Linked DNA regions of Homo sapiens: regions 1, 2 and 4 are each reported to be linked to region 3. Evidence: microRNA targets listed by miRTarBase, many of them from high-throughput screens and not tested one by one. Region 3 holds a microRNA gene; each other region holds the end of a gene's coding sequence.

Region 1 (3,697 bases), not on the chromosome of region 3:
TGAGGCGGGCAGCACAGGCCTGCTGTGGACACTCTAGGTCTGGCCTTGTATTTTGTGGTCTCAGAAGCCTTTGTGGGGACTTCTAGTGTAGGGAAGGCAGTCTCTCTGGGAGCTCCTGCAATGCCAAACTCTTAGCCCAGGTTCACTCCTCCGATCCAAGCCTGGCAGGGGTGGGGCATCATGGTGTGTAGGTATCAGGCAGGACTTGTAAGCCATCCCGTCAAGTCAAATTCTGGCTTAATGTGTCTTTAGGTAGATGACCTCTGAGCCACAGTTTCCTATTCTATGAATTGGGGTTTAGTAAATCTCTCGGGACTGAGAGCCAATGAGGCCATGTGTGCACACAAAATGCTGGGCACAAATGAGGGGCTCAGCGGGGCTGAGAAGTACATCCCATCCAGTGCCGACATCCGCTTGCATGGTGCCCTGGTAACCTTGCCTCTGCCCTCCCCAGGCCACCTCACCGATCAGCACCTGGCCGAGTTCCTGCGGCGCTGCAAGGGCAGCCTCCGCCCCAACGGCATCATCGTCATCAAAGACAACATGGCCCAGGAGGGCGTGATTCTGGACGACGTGGACAGCAGCGTGTGCCGGGACCTTGACGTGGTCCGCAGGATCATCTGCAGTGCAGGCCTCAGCCTCCTGGCCGAGGAGAGGCAGGAGAACCTCCCCGATGAGATCTACCATGTCTATAGCTTTGCCCTGAGATGAGCCGGGGCTGGCAGGAGAAACTGAGGAACCACAGTCCTGGTGGGGGGAGCTGGCAGCTGGGCAAGATCCAGGCGCCACGCTGGCGGTTCGTGAGTGTCGAGGCACCACTAAATATAGCTGTCTGCCGTCCACTCATTATGCGGGCTCTTCTTCAAAAGGCAAGGTGGGACCCGGCGGGGAGGGTGCTGCTGAACCAGCGGTGAGGCAGGAGCCCAGACCCTGCTCTCCTGCGAGATGGGATTGGGTGGAAGGGGCTCCAGGGCTCCTGGTGCTCCCCATGTGGGAATAGGGTGGCCACATCAGTAACCGATTCCCTGGGCCTCCAGCCCGGCCTTCCAGCCATGGGCCTGGCTGCCTGAAGAGGAAGGAAACCACCCCCAACTTGGTTGCTGGGGACTTGAAGACTTCAGTGTGATCTTTACCTAGGGGAGGGACAGAGCTGGGCTGGTGGAGCCCATGGGTGCTGCCTGATGGTGCTGTGGGGTGGGTGCTCATGTGCCAAGTCCTGCTTGGCAGTGGAGACCTGGGGCCCTTAAAGTGTTACAACAGCCTGCAGCAAGGGAAGTTCCCCGTAGCCTCAGTCTTCTCTGGGCTTGAGGCTGCTCCTTGGCAGGCATTTAAAGTAAAAAATAAAATGGGGCTGGGCGCGGTGGCTCACGCCTGTAATCCCAGCACTTTGGGAGGCCGAGGCGGGCAGATCACGAGGTCAGGAGATTGAGACCATCCTGGCTAACAGGTGAAACCCCGTCTCTACTTAAAATACAAAAAAAAAAAAAATTAGCCAGGCGTGATGGCGGGCGCCTGTAGTCCCAGCTACTCAGGAGGCTGAGGCAGGAGAATGGGGTGAGCCCGGGAGGCAGAGCTTGCAGTGAGGTGAGATTGCGCCACTGCACTCCAGCCTAGGTGACAGAGCGAGACTCTGTCTCAAAATAAAACTAAAATAAAATGGGGGCCGGGCACAGTGGCTCATGTCTGTAATCCCAGCACTTTGAAAGGCCGAGGCAGGCGAATCACCTGAGGTCAGGAGTTTGAGACCAGCCTGACCAACATGGCGAAACCCCGTCTCTACTAAAAATACAAAAATCAGCCAGGCATGGTGGTGGGCACCTATAATGCCAGCTACTCAGGAGGCTGAGGCAGGAGAACTGCTTGAACCTGGGAGGCAGAGGTCGCAGTGAGCCGAGATTGCACCATTGCACTCCAGCCTGGGTGACAGAGTGTCTCGAAAAAAAAAAATAATAAAATGGGACCTCCACACTGTGGAGGCCCTTGCCAGTCTAGAGTGGTGCTTCTTTGCAGGGACTTGGAAACAACCCCCCAAACACAGCATCCCCTCACACCTGCCACCCACTTCCTTACCGGCTGCTGTGGGAGCCTCTATCCTGAACTATGGAGGGGCGGGGTGGAAATTTTATATAAGGACCTTGTTAAGGCCAAGAAAGTCAGTTTAATCTTATAATATAAATATATCATTTAGTCACCTCAGCTTATCCCCAGAGGTGTTTACACAATTCCCAATGACCAGTGCAGCTTGGAAGGGACTGAGGCTCGCAAGTGGGTGGCACAGTCGGCTCTTCAGTGGCTCCAAAGTGAGCCCCTCACAACAGGAGACACTTCAGAGAGGTCTGTCCCCAGCCACGCACTCATGATTGCTTTTTAGCAGAAGTCATGGTCGCTGAGGCCCTGGGTTTGGCAAAAGCACAGCTGCCAGCAGAGCACAGTTCTGGTAGGTGGGGCCACGGCTGACCTGGCCCCAGAGCTACAGGAACAGGCAGGGGCCAGCTTGGCTTGCAACACCATGAAACAAGCCTGTGGGGCCCTTAGTGTCTTCTCCCGCAGAGCCCACCAGAAACACTTCTGTGAGTAACAGAACCTGGAAGGAAAAGGGGCAGGGGTGGGGCCTTGGTGGCACCGCACAGGACGTGCCCCAGGCTTCCTCTCCAGCTGCACTGCCACGTGCGGCCAACAAGAGCCCCGCAGCCCTGGGGTGCTGAGGCTTGGTCCTTCCCAGCTTCTGCAAATGCCCTGGCACTGCCCTCCAATTCAGAGGGTATAAACATCAATCCAAGCCCTGTTCCTCTTTCCAACATGGGGGGGACTTGGAGTGCCGCTGGAGGGAAGGGGGCAGTCTCTCTGGAAGAACCAGAGCTGCACCCTTCACCACTGGAGTGATCACAGCTTCAGGCTCTACCTGGCTGGCTTTTCTCATGAAGGATCCCGTCTCATCTCCCAGATCAAAAAGACCCTCTTCTAATGCTGTCCCAGCATCTACCAACAGGCTGACCTGAGCTGCCCGTGTCCCCCGTTCCTGTAGCCTGAGACCTATCAGATGTCATCTTCCACGGAGCCACTGTGCTCGCTAAGGAGGTACCACTTCAGCCTGTCGGGCAGAGGCAGGGCTTTGACCTTCACATCCACAGGCCACGGCTGAAGGTAGAGCCGGATGGCCACACGGCACAGGTGCTTGAGGGGCGGGGGATAGCTCTCCAGCTGCCTCAAGGAGAAGTGGAGGGCCTGGATCTTTTCCGCCAGGCTGCCCACAGGGTGGATATCGAAGTTTTCGGGCAGCTGGAGTTTCTGAGAGTTGGTCACCATGAGATCCAGGACAGTCTCAGCTTTGCGCAGGAGGTCCGCATGGCTCTCGTCTTCCGTGCAGCCTGGGTGGGAACAGAGCCTCTCAAAGATGATGTGAAAGCCAGACCAGCAGGACGCACCGTGCAGGGAGCAGTTGTAGGCGGCTCCGGACTCCAGGAGGAAGCGCAGGAGAGGGAAGTGCAGTTTAAAGCTCTTCAGGCAGATGTGGGTGAGGGACTCGTGGGCTGGGCACTCGCTGGGGTCGGCCCCGTGTGCCAGCAGCAGCCGTGTGACTTGGAAGCAGAAGCGGTTGATCATCTGGGCCTCCTCTTTGTCCCCTCCCACGGTCTCACCAAGCAGGAAGATGATGCAGGTGAACACTGTGTCCCCATCTTTGGTGGTGGCCTTGACG
Region 2 (3,614 bases), not on the chromosome of region 3:
CCAGAAACCACCAAGGCCGAGCCAGAAGTCCCTCCACAGGAGGGCGTGCCAGCCCGGCTGCCCGCGGTTGTTATGGACACCGCAGGGCAGGCGGGCGGCCATGCGGCTTCCAGCCCTGAGATCTCCCAGCCGCAGAAGGGCCGGAAGCCCCGGGACCTAGAGCTTCCACTCAGCCCGAGCCTGCTAGGTGGGCCGGGACCCGAACGGACCCCAGGATCGGGAAGTGGCTCCGGCCTCCAGGCTCCGGGGCCGGCGCTGACCCCATCCCTGCTTCCTACGCATACATTGGTGAGTGCCTGCGGAGGGGTGGGGTGTGTGGGCGCCAGCACCAATGGGATTGGCATGTGGCGGGTGACTGACAGGAATCAGAGGAGGGTGAGTGTGGTTGTTCCTGAAGAGGGTGGAGCCTTTGAGTGTGATTGACTGGGCTGATGCTGGCTGGAGGGATGGGGTTTGATTAGTGAAGGGCAGGGCTGGGGACTTTTGTGGGTGGGACCGAGGGTCTTTCTGTGGGACTGTTTCTAGGTTGGGGTGTGGCTTAAGGAACCTGAGCAGGGCTTTTTGGTCTGGGATGTGCATATGGGGTTTCATGGGTGGGACATGAGTTGGAAGTTGACCCTGAGCTGTTGGGATGGTGACTTGAGAGGTTTGAGAGCAGCATTTGGATAGGGTCTTGTGGGTGGTCTTGACCAATGAGGTCTCAGCAACTGAGGGTGGGCTCTCGGGAGTGGGGAGTGGGGGGTGTCTGCAGAGTTTGAGAGATCATAGGCATGGCCTCCATGGTTACCATCTAGGTGTGTGCACTTTGGGGAGTGACCCTGGGAGTGTGAGTGGGAAATCTGTGGTGGGGCCGGGACCAAGTCCCTTCCAGCATCCCACATCTACTTTCTACTCACTTGAGCTCCGACCACCCTCTCCCCACAGACCCCGGTGCTGCTGACACCCAGCTCGCTGCCTCCTAGCATTCACTTCTGGAGCACCCTGAGTCCCATTGCGCCCCGTAGCCCGGCCAAGCTCTCCTTCCAGGTAGGATCCTCTTTCCCCGTTTTGGACAGGGTGAGAGACCCAAGAATGGCCCCCATCTGTGACCTCTCCCTCTTTTTGCCCCCAGTTTCCATCCAGTGGCAGCGCCCAGGTGCACATCCCTTCTATCAGCGTGGATGGCCTCTCGACCCCCGTGGTGCTCTCCCCAGGGCCCCAGAAGCCATGACTACTACCACCACCACCACCACCCCTTCTGGGGTCACTCCATCCATGCTCTCTCCAGCCAGCCATCTCAAGGAGAAACATAGTTCAACTGAAAGACTCATGCTCTGATTGTGGTGGGGTGGGGATCCTTGGGAAGAATTACTCCCAAGAGTAACTCTCATTATCTCCTCCACAGAAAACACACAGCTTCCACAACTTCTCTGTTTTCTGTCAGTCCCCCAGTGGCCGCCCTTACACGTCTCCTACTTCAATGGTAGGGGCGGTTTATTTATTTATTTTTTGAAGGCCACTGGGAGGAGCCTGACCTAACCTTTTAGGGTGGTTAGGACATCTCCCCCACCTCCCCACTTTTTTCCCCAAGACAAGACAATCGAGGTCTGGCTTGAGAACGACCTTTCTTTCTTTATTTCTCAGCCTGCCCTTGGGGAGATGAGGGAGCCCTGTCTGCGTTTTTGGATGTGAGTAGAAGAGTTAGTTTGTTTTGTTTTATTATTCCTGGCCATACTCAGGGGTCCAGGAAGAATTTGTACCATTTAATGGGTTGGGAGTCTTGGCCAAGGAAGAATCACACCCTTGGAATAGAAATTTCCACCTCCCCAACCTTTCTCTCAGACAGCTTATCCTTTTCAACCAACTTTTTGGCCAGGGAGGAATGTCCCTTTTGTTCTTCCCCCTGAGAAGCCATTCCTTTGTCTGCCAACCTCCCTGGGGTCCTGCCTGTTTCCTCCCAATGGAGGGTTTTTTTGGGGGGTGGTCCCCGTCTGGGGGGCCCCTCCAGCCAGTACTCCAGGTCTCCCTGTCTCTCCCCCGCTGCCATTTTGATAGTATAATCTATTTTTAAATGGGGCTTTTCAATAGGGGAGAGGGAGTCATCTCTTCCTATATTTGGTGGGGTGGGTGGGAAGGAAGGGATTTGGGGGGGAATCTTCCTGCCGCCTCCCCCACTCCAAGTGTTTATTTTTGATACCAAACATGAATTTTCAGTTCCCTCCCTCCCAGCCCCCCAATTTCCTGCGGGCGGGTACAAAGGACCCTTTCAATGTCCCTGGAGTTGGGAGGGAGGAATGGGGGACATAAAGCCTGTCCTGTCTCTATTCTAGGCAAGAGAGAGTGGGTTCAAAAGACTCCTGGGCTCACCTGTTAGCGCTGGCCCAGCCCAGGCCTTGGGACCTGGGGGTTGGTGATTTGGGGGACAGTGCTACACTCGTCTCCACTGTTTGTTTTACTTCCCCAAAATGGACCTTTTTTTTTTCTAAAGAGTCCCAGAGAATGGGGAATTGTTCCTGTAAATATATATTTTTCAAAGTGATGCTGGAGGCTGCTGGCACTTTTTCTCTGATGTTGTCAGGACTAGCTGAGCGTGACACGCATGACTGTGTGTGGAGGGTGTGAGGCAGAGGTCGATTGTGAGAGAAACGGTGTGATGGCGTGTGTGAGAAACAATAGTAGGGACTGCATATCGGTAACCATGTGTGTGTCAGAGACGTGGAAAGCTGTGATTGTGTGTGAGAGTGTGCAGAAGTTGTGACCACAGACTTTTGATGGTGTGTCTATGTGGGAAATTGTGGCTGTGTTTCAGAAAATAACTGAGCCTGGATGAATAGTCAAGGTACTGTACAAGAACCTGTGATGGTATGCACAAAATAATGTCTACGAGAAGGGAACGGGGACTGCAGCCCTGTCACTGTTTGATGGCGAGCAAGACAGACTGGGTGACCAAAACCACATGTGAGAGACTACGTGGGCATGAAACTACAGTAGAGGTTGTCAGGGATTGTGGCAAAGATTGTGTAGGTGACAAACCTCACTGTAGGCGACTCAACGTTTGAGAAATAGATGATGTGCAAAACTGTTTACTTGAGGCTGTAGTGTCAGCTAAAGCTGTAAGACTGTATGGGTGCGAACTTGATTGTACGGGAGAGAATGGCTGGGAGACCAAACCAGTGACCGAGACCAAAGATACAAGAAGGTGCAATTGTGTGTACGAAAGCAGGCGTGAGAGACTGCAGCAAAGACTGAGAAAAACGAATGGCTGTGACTGGGAGAGTGTGACAGGCTGTGTGTGTGTGTGTGTACACCTGAAACTAGTTGCAAATCGATTTACCATTACTACCACAGTCTATCCCACAGGTTCAGGGACTGTGAGAAAGTAGGAGAGAAAATGACGGTGAGCCGGACGGAGCCACTGACATGGTGTGAGAGACCACATCACTGGGCATGCAAGGGAGAGGGACAAGGAACTGTTTATGAGAGACTTGGCAGTAGCAGTAACTGGAAGTCAGAAACTGTGGGAGAGGAACTTGACAACTGAGTGATGTCAGAGCACCAGGGGGTCTGTGAAACAGTTCATAAGAAACCATAAATCAGGGGCCATACAAAAGAGCTGAGCAAATGAGACATGCCAA
Region 3 (3,000 bases):
TGCTATTTCCACCACATCTGCACTTACTTCCTCCACTGAAGTCTTGAACCCCTCATAGTCATCAATGAGGGTGGGAATCAACTTCTTCCAAACTCCTGTTAATGTTGACAATTTGACCTCCTCCCATGAATCACGAATGTTTTTAATGGCATCTAAAATGGTGAATCCTTTCCAGAAGGTTTTCAATTTGCTTTGCCCAGATCCATCAGAGACATCACTATCCATGGCAGCTAGAGCCTTATGAAATGTATTTCTCAAATAATAAGACTTGAAGGTCGAAATTACCCCTTGATCCATGGGCTGCAGAATGGATGTTGTGTTAGCAGGCATGAAAATAACATTAATCTCCTCGTATATCTCCATCAGAGCTCTTGGATGACTAGGGGCATTGTCAATGAGCAGTAATATTTTGAAAGGAATCTTCTTTTCTGAGCAGTAGGTCTCAACAGTGGGTTTAAAATATTCAGTAAACCACGCTGTAAACAGATGTGCTGTCATCCGGGCTTTGCTGTTCCATTTATATAGCACGGGTAGAGTAGATTTAGTATAATTCTTAAGGGCCCTAGGATTTTCAGAATGGTAAATAAGCATTGGCTTCAACTTAAAGTCACCAGCTGCATTAGCCCCTAACAAGAGAGTCAGCCTGTCCTTTGAAGCTTTGAAGCCAGGCACTGACTTCTCCTCTCTAGCTATGAAAGTTCTAGATGGCATCTTCTTCCAATAGAAGGCTGTTTCATCTACATTGAAAATCTGTTGTTTAGTGTAGCCACCTTCGTCAATGATCTTAGCTAAAGCTTCTGGATAACTTGCTGCAGCTTCTACATCAGCACTTGCTGCTTCACCTTGTGCTTTTATGTTATGGAAATGGCTTCTTTCCTTAAACCTCATGAACCAACCTCTGCTAGCTTCAAACTTTTCTTCTGCAGCTTCCACACCTCTCTCAGCTTTCATAGAGTTGAAGAGAGTTAGGGCTTTGTTCTGGATTAGGCTTTGGCTTAAGGGAATGTTGCGGCTGGTCTGATCTTCTATCCAGACCACTAAAACCTTCTCCATATCAGCAATAAGGCTGTTTCGCTTTCTTATCATTCGTGTGTTCATTGGAGTAGCACTTTTAACTTCCTTCAAGAACTTTTCCTTTGCATTTACAACTTGGCTAACTGTTTGCCGCAGGAGGCCTAGCCTTCGGCCTATCTCGGCTTTTGACATACCTTCCTCACTCAGTTTAATCATTTCTAGTTTTTGATTTAAAGTGAGAGATGTGCGACTCTTCCTTTCACTTGAGCACTTAGAGGCCATTGCAGAGTCATTAATTCGCCTAATCTCAATATTGTTGTGTCTCAGGGAATAGGGAGGCCCAAGAAGAGGGAGAGAGATGGGGAACGGTCTGTGGGTGGAGCGGTCAGAACACACACAACATTAAGTTCCACGTCTTATAAAAGACGCTGTATGTGGCACCCCAAAACAATGACAATAGCAACATCAAAGATCACTGATCATAGATCACCATAACAGACACAGAAATCATGAAAAAGTTTTAAATATTTTGAGAATTACCAAAATGTAACACAGAGACACCAAGTGAGCACATGCTGTTGGAAAAATGGCGCTGATACAATTGCTGGACTCAGGGCTGCCACAAACCCTCCATTTGTTTTCAGAATGCCCTATCTGCGAAGCGTAATAAAACGAGGTATGCCATAGTACAGTGGCGCCGCGACCGACAAAGGAAAGCCTCCGGGAGGTCAAAAGAGATACCAGAGAGTGCGTCCCGCACTGGAGGAAGAGGAAGGTTTTTACCAAGCAGCGAGTCCAGAGCCCGCGCCGTCAACGACGCGGTGCTGCCTTTTTTCCGAGCCGCTGCGGGAGGGGGCCAGGACACGCTCCCTTAGGAGAGCGGGCGGGTCACAAGGACCTGGACAGAGGCAGAACTGAGGCCAGCAGCCAGCTCCGCCGCTGAGTCCAGCCCTCTGCGCAGCCGCCCTGAGCTGGCGTCCCGAGATAGCCGCTTCCAAACCGGGCCTGCGCGCCGACGTTCCGCTGCGCCCCGCGCAAAACCGGAAGTACCCGGGCCCAAGGCTGAGGGACCCGGTGGAGCGGAAGTCACTCCCTGAGGCAGTGGCGACAGCGGCGGCGAGAGGATGAACAACAAGTTCGACGCGTGAGTGGCTCGTGGCCGCCCCCGGGGCCCCTTCCCCGAACAGTTCCCCCGCGCCCGCCCCCGCTGGGGCTGGGGCGGCGCAAACCCTGCGGCACCGGCTTCCCTGCTGGGATCCGGCTGCGGCCGGACCTGGCCTGGACTGGCGGGGAGGAGGGGGCTGGGGAGCAATGGATACCGGAGTCCCGGAGACCCCAGGGCCGTCCGAACCGAGGGCGAAGAGCTGGGCCCGGGGGAGGGGTGGCTGTGCCGCCCGGTAGGGGGAGATTTTCGGACGCCCCGCCCTGGTGGATGCGGATTGCCTGCGACGTGGAGGGGTGGGGACCTCGGCGGTTTGGGTGTTTCCGCAGTCTGGCAGCGCTGCCTCTGAATCCAGCTTTCCCCACACACTCCCTCTCCCCTCTGAGCCTCAGTTTTCTCATCTGCAGAGTGGGGACGGTAACACCCTTTGTCGTAGAGTTTGGAGGATGCAATGAGGTAATGTGGTTGCTGCCCTCGACGCGGTGGAAGGCTGGCTTAGGAATTATCTTCCTGAGACTCTTCCTACTTTCTTTCTCCTCCCCTTCCCGTTCCCGTCTTCCAACACACTCGCCAAGACCTAAGTATACTTGTTGCCCTCTCCTGCCCGCTCCGGTTTCTAGTTTCAGCATCAAACAGTTTGGAGGTACAGAGAGAAAATGCAGAAGTATCTTTACTTATCCCCCTCCAAGGATTGTATCTTGAGGTAGAATATGTTCCTTCCTCTCTTCTAGTAGTCTAGTAAATCGACTGTCTCTTCATCCGAAAACCTGGATTTCTAGTCCCAGATTCACCACTTACCATCTGTTTGACTGTAGAAAAGTTAC
Region 4 (3,697 bases), not on the chromosome of region 3:
CCATCTAAAAAAAAAAAAAAAAAAAAAAGAACGAGCTGGGGACAGAGAGCAATAGGGAGGACACAGAATGAGCAGAATGAGTCAGAGACATACAGAGTGGGAGAGAGAAACAATACCAAGAGACACCAGAGAGATAAACAGGACACAGAAAGACTGAGACGCAGAGAGACAAACACAGAAAGAGAAAAGAGCCAGGACACACAGCAACAAGGAAACGAAAGAGTAGGAAAAAATGGGGCTGGGAGAAGAGAGATGAAAACCAAAGAGAGGGGGGCCAGTGGGAACCGAAATGGAGAGGCCCCTCCCTCAAACTCACCATTTGCTGGTGGCCAGGGCTTTGGACTGACTTGCTATCCCCAGAGGATCCCAGCTGGGGCTTTTAAACCCTGAGGGACAGAGGTGGTGGAGAGAGAGAACATGTGACATCGTTCTCAGGGCTTGAGATCACCAGTTTATTTATTCCTCAGAGCAAGTCTATGAAGAAGTACCATTAGCATCTTCATTCTACAGAACCACAGAGGCAGGGCCAGGCACAGTGGCTCATGCCTATAATTCCAGGGCTTTGGGAAGCCAAGGTAGGAAAATCACTTAAGCCCAGGAGTTCAAGACCAGCCTGGCTAACATAGTGTGAAACCCCATTTCTATTAAACAAACAAACAAAAAATGCTTAAAAATTTTAAATAAGTTATAAGGCTGGGTGCAGTGGCTCACGCCTGTAATCCCAGCACTTTGGGAGGCCAAAGTGGGCAAATCACCTTAGGTCAGGAATTTGAGACCAGCCTGACCAACATGATGAAACCTCGTCTCTACTAAAAATACAAAAATTAGCCAGGCGTGGTGGCGGGCGCCTGTAATCCCAGCTACTCAGGAGGCTGAAGCAGGAGAATGGCATGAACCCAGGAGGCGGAGCTTGCAGTGAGCCGACATTGCACCACTGCACTCCAGCCTGAGCGACAGAGCAAGACTCCGTCTCAAAAGAAAAAAAAAAAAAAGAAACAGAGGCCGGGTGTGGTGGCTCATGCCTGTAATCCCAGAATTTTGGGAGGCCCAAGTGGGCAAATCACGAGGTCAGGAGTTCGAGACCAGCCTGGCCAACATGGTGAAACCGCGTCTCTACTAAAAAATACAAAAATTAGCCAGGCGTGGTGGCAGGGGCCTTAATCCCAGCTACTTGAGAGGCAGAGACAGGAGAATTGTTTGAACCTGGGAGGTGGAGGTTGCAGTGAGCAGAGATCGAGCCATTGCACTCAAGCGTGGGGGACAAGAGTGAGACTTCTCTCAAAATAAAAATAATAAAAAATAAAAATACAAAAAAAAAATTAGCTGGGTGTGGTGGTGGGCACCTGTAATCCCAGCTACTCAGGAGGTTGAGGCAGGAGACTCACCTGAACCAGAAGGCGGAGGTTGCAGTGAGCAAGATCATGCCACTGCACTCCAGCCTGGGCAACAGTGCAAGACTCCATCTCAAAAAAAAAAAAAAAGAAACACAGAGGTCAAGTGACCTGCCCAAAGTCACACAGTTTGTAATGAGAGGAGCTGGAATTTGAACCCGAGTAGTCTCGCCCCAGTCAGTGCCCCTAACTATCACCTATGCTGACTACAAAGAAGTGCTGGCTTCCTAGATTCCCCTTCACAACCACCCTCTGGGGAGTGGTGGTGGGGTAAAGGGGAGGTGAGCAGAGCAGCTGACCTTCCTAACCACCTCCACAGATCTCCAGGAGCCACAGCGTGGGAGAAGATGCTCAGCCTCACTCTCCTGGGAAGGCCTCCAGCTCAAGCGGGGAGGCTGGACAGGAACCAGCTTCCTGCATGTCAGATCCCAGGCCCTGTCCAGAGCCAGGCCTCAGTCTTCCAGGATGGAACATGGCCTCCCCACCTCGGACTCCTTGCCCAGAAGCTAGACCTCAGTTTCCCGGCCTTGGTTTCCTAGCAGCGCCCCAGGCCAGAGGCTGCACCAGTCTTCCAAGGCAGCACAGCGCTTTGGTCATTGGCTCTGAGATTTCCAGACAGGCTGAGAAGCAACACCACCGCCGCCGCCATCCACTCTCATCTCTCTGACCCCAGGAAGTGGGCCAGCATCGTTCCCTCTCGGCAGCCAACTGAGATCCCTGGGTGATTCAGCCTCTGTCCCTGACATGATAATTACACCAACAGCAATTCCCAGAACCCCAGCTATTGTCCTATATCACCCCACCCCTCCTCTTGTCTCCTGTGCTGTAACACGAGGGCAGACACTCTGCTTCTCCCCAGAGACATTTGTCCTTTGCTCCAAGCACACAAAAAACTGGGAAGCCCTTCCCACTGTCTGACCTTCAAAGGCCCTGCTGCTGCTAAGCTGCTTCTCCCTACTCCAAGAAAAGAAGAGCTCCTTAAGGAAGGGGAACAGCCCACCCGGGACAAAACAGACAAAGGCCACACCCCAGGAAGGTCTTTCCCACACAAACTTGGGAGGGGAGGCATCTCTGCAGACAACAGGACAGACACAGCACGAGGCAGCCGAGGCTGTCGTTTATTGCAGATGGACACGGATTCAGGGAGGTGAAGAGGCAGATGGGCTGTGGGCTCTGTGCTCAGCATCCCACAGCAGGAGGGGCAGGAGACAGAGCTCAGGATGGGATCTTCCTGATGGTGGAGGACCCGGCCTGACCACAGAGTAGCTGCAAGAGGCAAGGCCCCGAGCTGACACCCCCTGGGCCCCCATTCCGCGGGATGACGGCTCCAGAGACGCTGAGCGATGTCATTAGGAAGAAGGCCGGACCAATCCAGAGACGGTGCATCCTCGGCGTGGAGCACAGAGCTCTCGAGGGCTGGCGATCCGGGTTGGGGTGGAAGGGAGAGTTACCCGGGTCTTCGCCCCTCCGCGGCCTCTGGCGTCTCTCTGGGTGTCTGGCGGCTCGGACGGCGGTCAGGGTCGCTGTAGCGGCGGCGGCGGCTCAGCGGCAGCTGGAGCTGGGGTCGCGGCCCGCCGGGGACTCCCAGGAGGCAGGAGAGGGAGGCAGCGGCGGGCGCCGGGACAGGCGGCACGCCCGGGCGGGCAGCACACGGAGGGGACGGCGCGCTGGGCTGTGGGCCGGCGGGTGCCGCGGGAGACCGCGTGGGTACCCAGATGAGACCGTAGTACACGGCGAGCAGCACGGCAGCTAGCGAGACGCAGAGGAAGTAGGCGCATACCGGAGCCAAGCGCAGCCAGCGCCCCCGCGGGCCCTCGCTCAGCCCCGCGCCTCCGGGGCTCTCGGCGCCGCCGCCCACGCAGCTGGTCCCCCGCATCCCCGCAGCCCACTCGGCTCCGCGCCGCAGACCGCACAGGCCCCGCCCCCACCAGGCCCCGCCCCCACCCCGCAGACCGCCCCGCTCTCTAAACCGCCCGCCTCCGGCCCCGCCCCCGCCAGCATGGTCACGCCCCCACGCGAGCTGCCGCCTCCGCATCCTAGGCCCACCCCCTCCAGCCTCCGCCCCACCACCGACAGGCGGAGGTGCTACCCCGCCCCCCTCGCTCCAGCCCCGCCCCCGCGCTTAGCCCCACCACCCCAATCACCGCCTCCTCCCGCCACAACACGGTTCTCTTCCCAGACTCGGACTTCATCCAGCCCAGGCATCTAGCCCGCCTCGGAGCCCGCCCCCTCGTCCCGCTCAAGCCCTGCCTGGAGCCCTAACCCGCCCTGTGCCGCAGCCAGTCTCACTTCTCTACCTGTCGGAC

The links. Region 3 holds the annotated microRNA hsa-miR-5001-5p (AGGGCUGGACUCAGCGGCGGAGCU, at 1,944-1,967, opposite strand). A microRNA usually pairs through its seed, bases 2 to 8, with sites in the 3' UTR of a target mRNA and lowers its output. Matches are read on the target gene's strand: a 7mer-m8 pairs with bases 2 to 8, a 7mer-A1 pairs with bases 2 to 7 and ends in A, and an 8mer does both.
Region 1: the mRNA of ASB6 is a reported target of hsa-miR-5001-5p. Seed matches in the 3' UTR shown: 7mer-m8 at 1,349-1,355, 8mer at 1,152-1,159 and 7mer-m8 at 716-722.
Region 2: the mRNA of ELK1 is a reported target of hsa-miR-5001-5p. Seed matches in the 3' UTR shown: 7mer-m8 at 2,205-2,211 and 8mer at 2,361-2,368.
Region 4: miRTarBase lists INAFM1 as a target of hsa-miR-5001-5p. Seed matches in the 3' UTR shown: 7mer-m8 at 2,805-2,811 and 7mer-A1 at 2,552-2,558.

What each region holds. Positions count from the first base shown.
Region 1 is chr9:129,634,754-129,638,450 of GRCh38, forward strand. ASB6 (ankyrin repeat and SOCS box containing 6) reads right to left here. Exons shown (of 6, transcript NM_017873.4): 6 at 1-3,697. The coding sequence ends at 3,037. NTMT1 (N-terminal Xaa-Pro-Lys N-methyltransferase 1) reads left to right here. Exons shown (of 4, transcript NM_014064.4): 4 at 455-1,382. The coding sequence ends at 711. Among named protein-coding and RNA genes, the nearest start is that of ASB6, 5.5 kb to the right of the region's middle.
Region 2 is chrX:47,634,425-47,638,038 of GRCh38, reverse strand. It overlaps ELK1 (ETS transcription factor ELK1), which reads left to right. Exons shown (of 7, transcript NM_001114123.3): 5 at 1-288; 6 at 925-1,026; 7 at 1,112-2,518. The coding sequence ends at 1,210. Among named protein-coding and RNA genes, the nearest start is that of CFP, 6.3 kb to the right of the region's middle.
Region 3 is chr2:232,548,587-232,551,586 of GRCh38, forward strand. It overlaps MIR5001 (microRNA 5001), which reads right to left and starts at 1,987; the gene lies at 1,888-1,987. TIGD1 (tigger transposable element derived 1) reads right to left here and starts at 1,971. Exons shown (of 1, transcript NM_145702.4): 1 at 1-1,971. The coding sequence starts at 1,296. It overlaps EIF4E2 (eukaryotic translation initiation factor 4E family member 2), which reads left to right and starts at 2,103. Exons shown (of 7, transcript NM_004846.4): 1 at 2,103-2,158. The coding sequence starts at 2,139. RefSeq lists a silencer at 2,114-2,483.
Region 4 is chr19:47,274,490-47,278,186 of GRCh38, reverse strand. It overlaps INAFM1 (InaF motif containing 1), which reads right to left and starts at 3,302. Exons shown (of 1, transcript NM_178511.6): 1 at 2,464-3,302. The coding sequence starts at 3,267. The coding sequence ends at 2,839. It also overlaps a transcript of CCDC9 not described here. RefSeq lists a silencer at 2,931-3,380.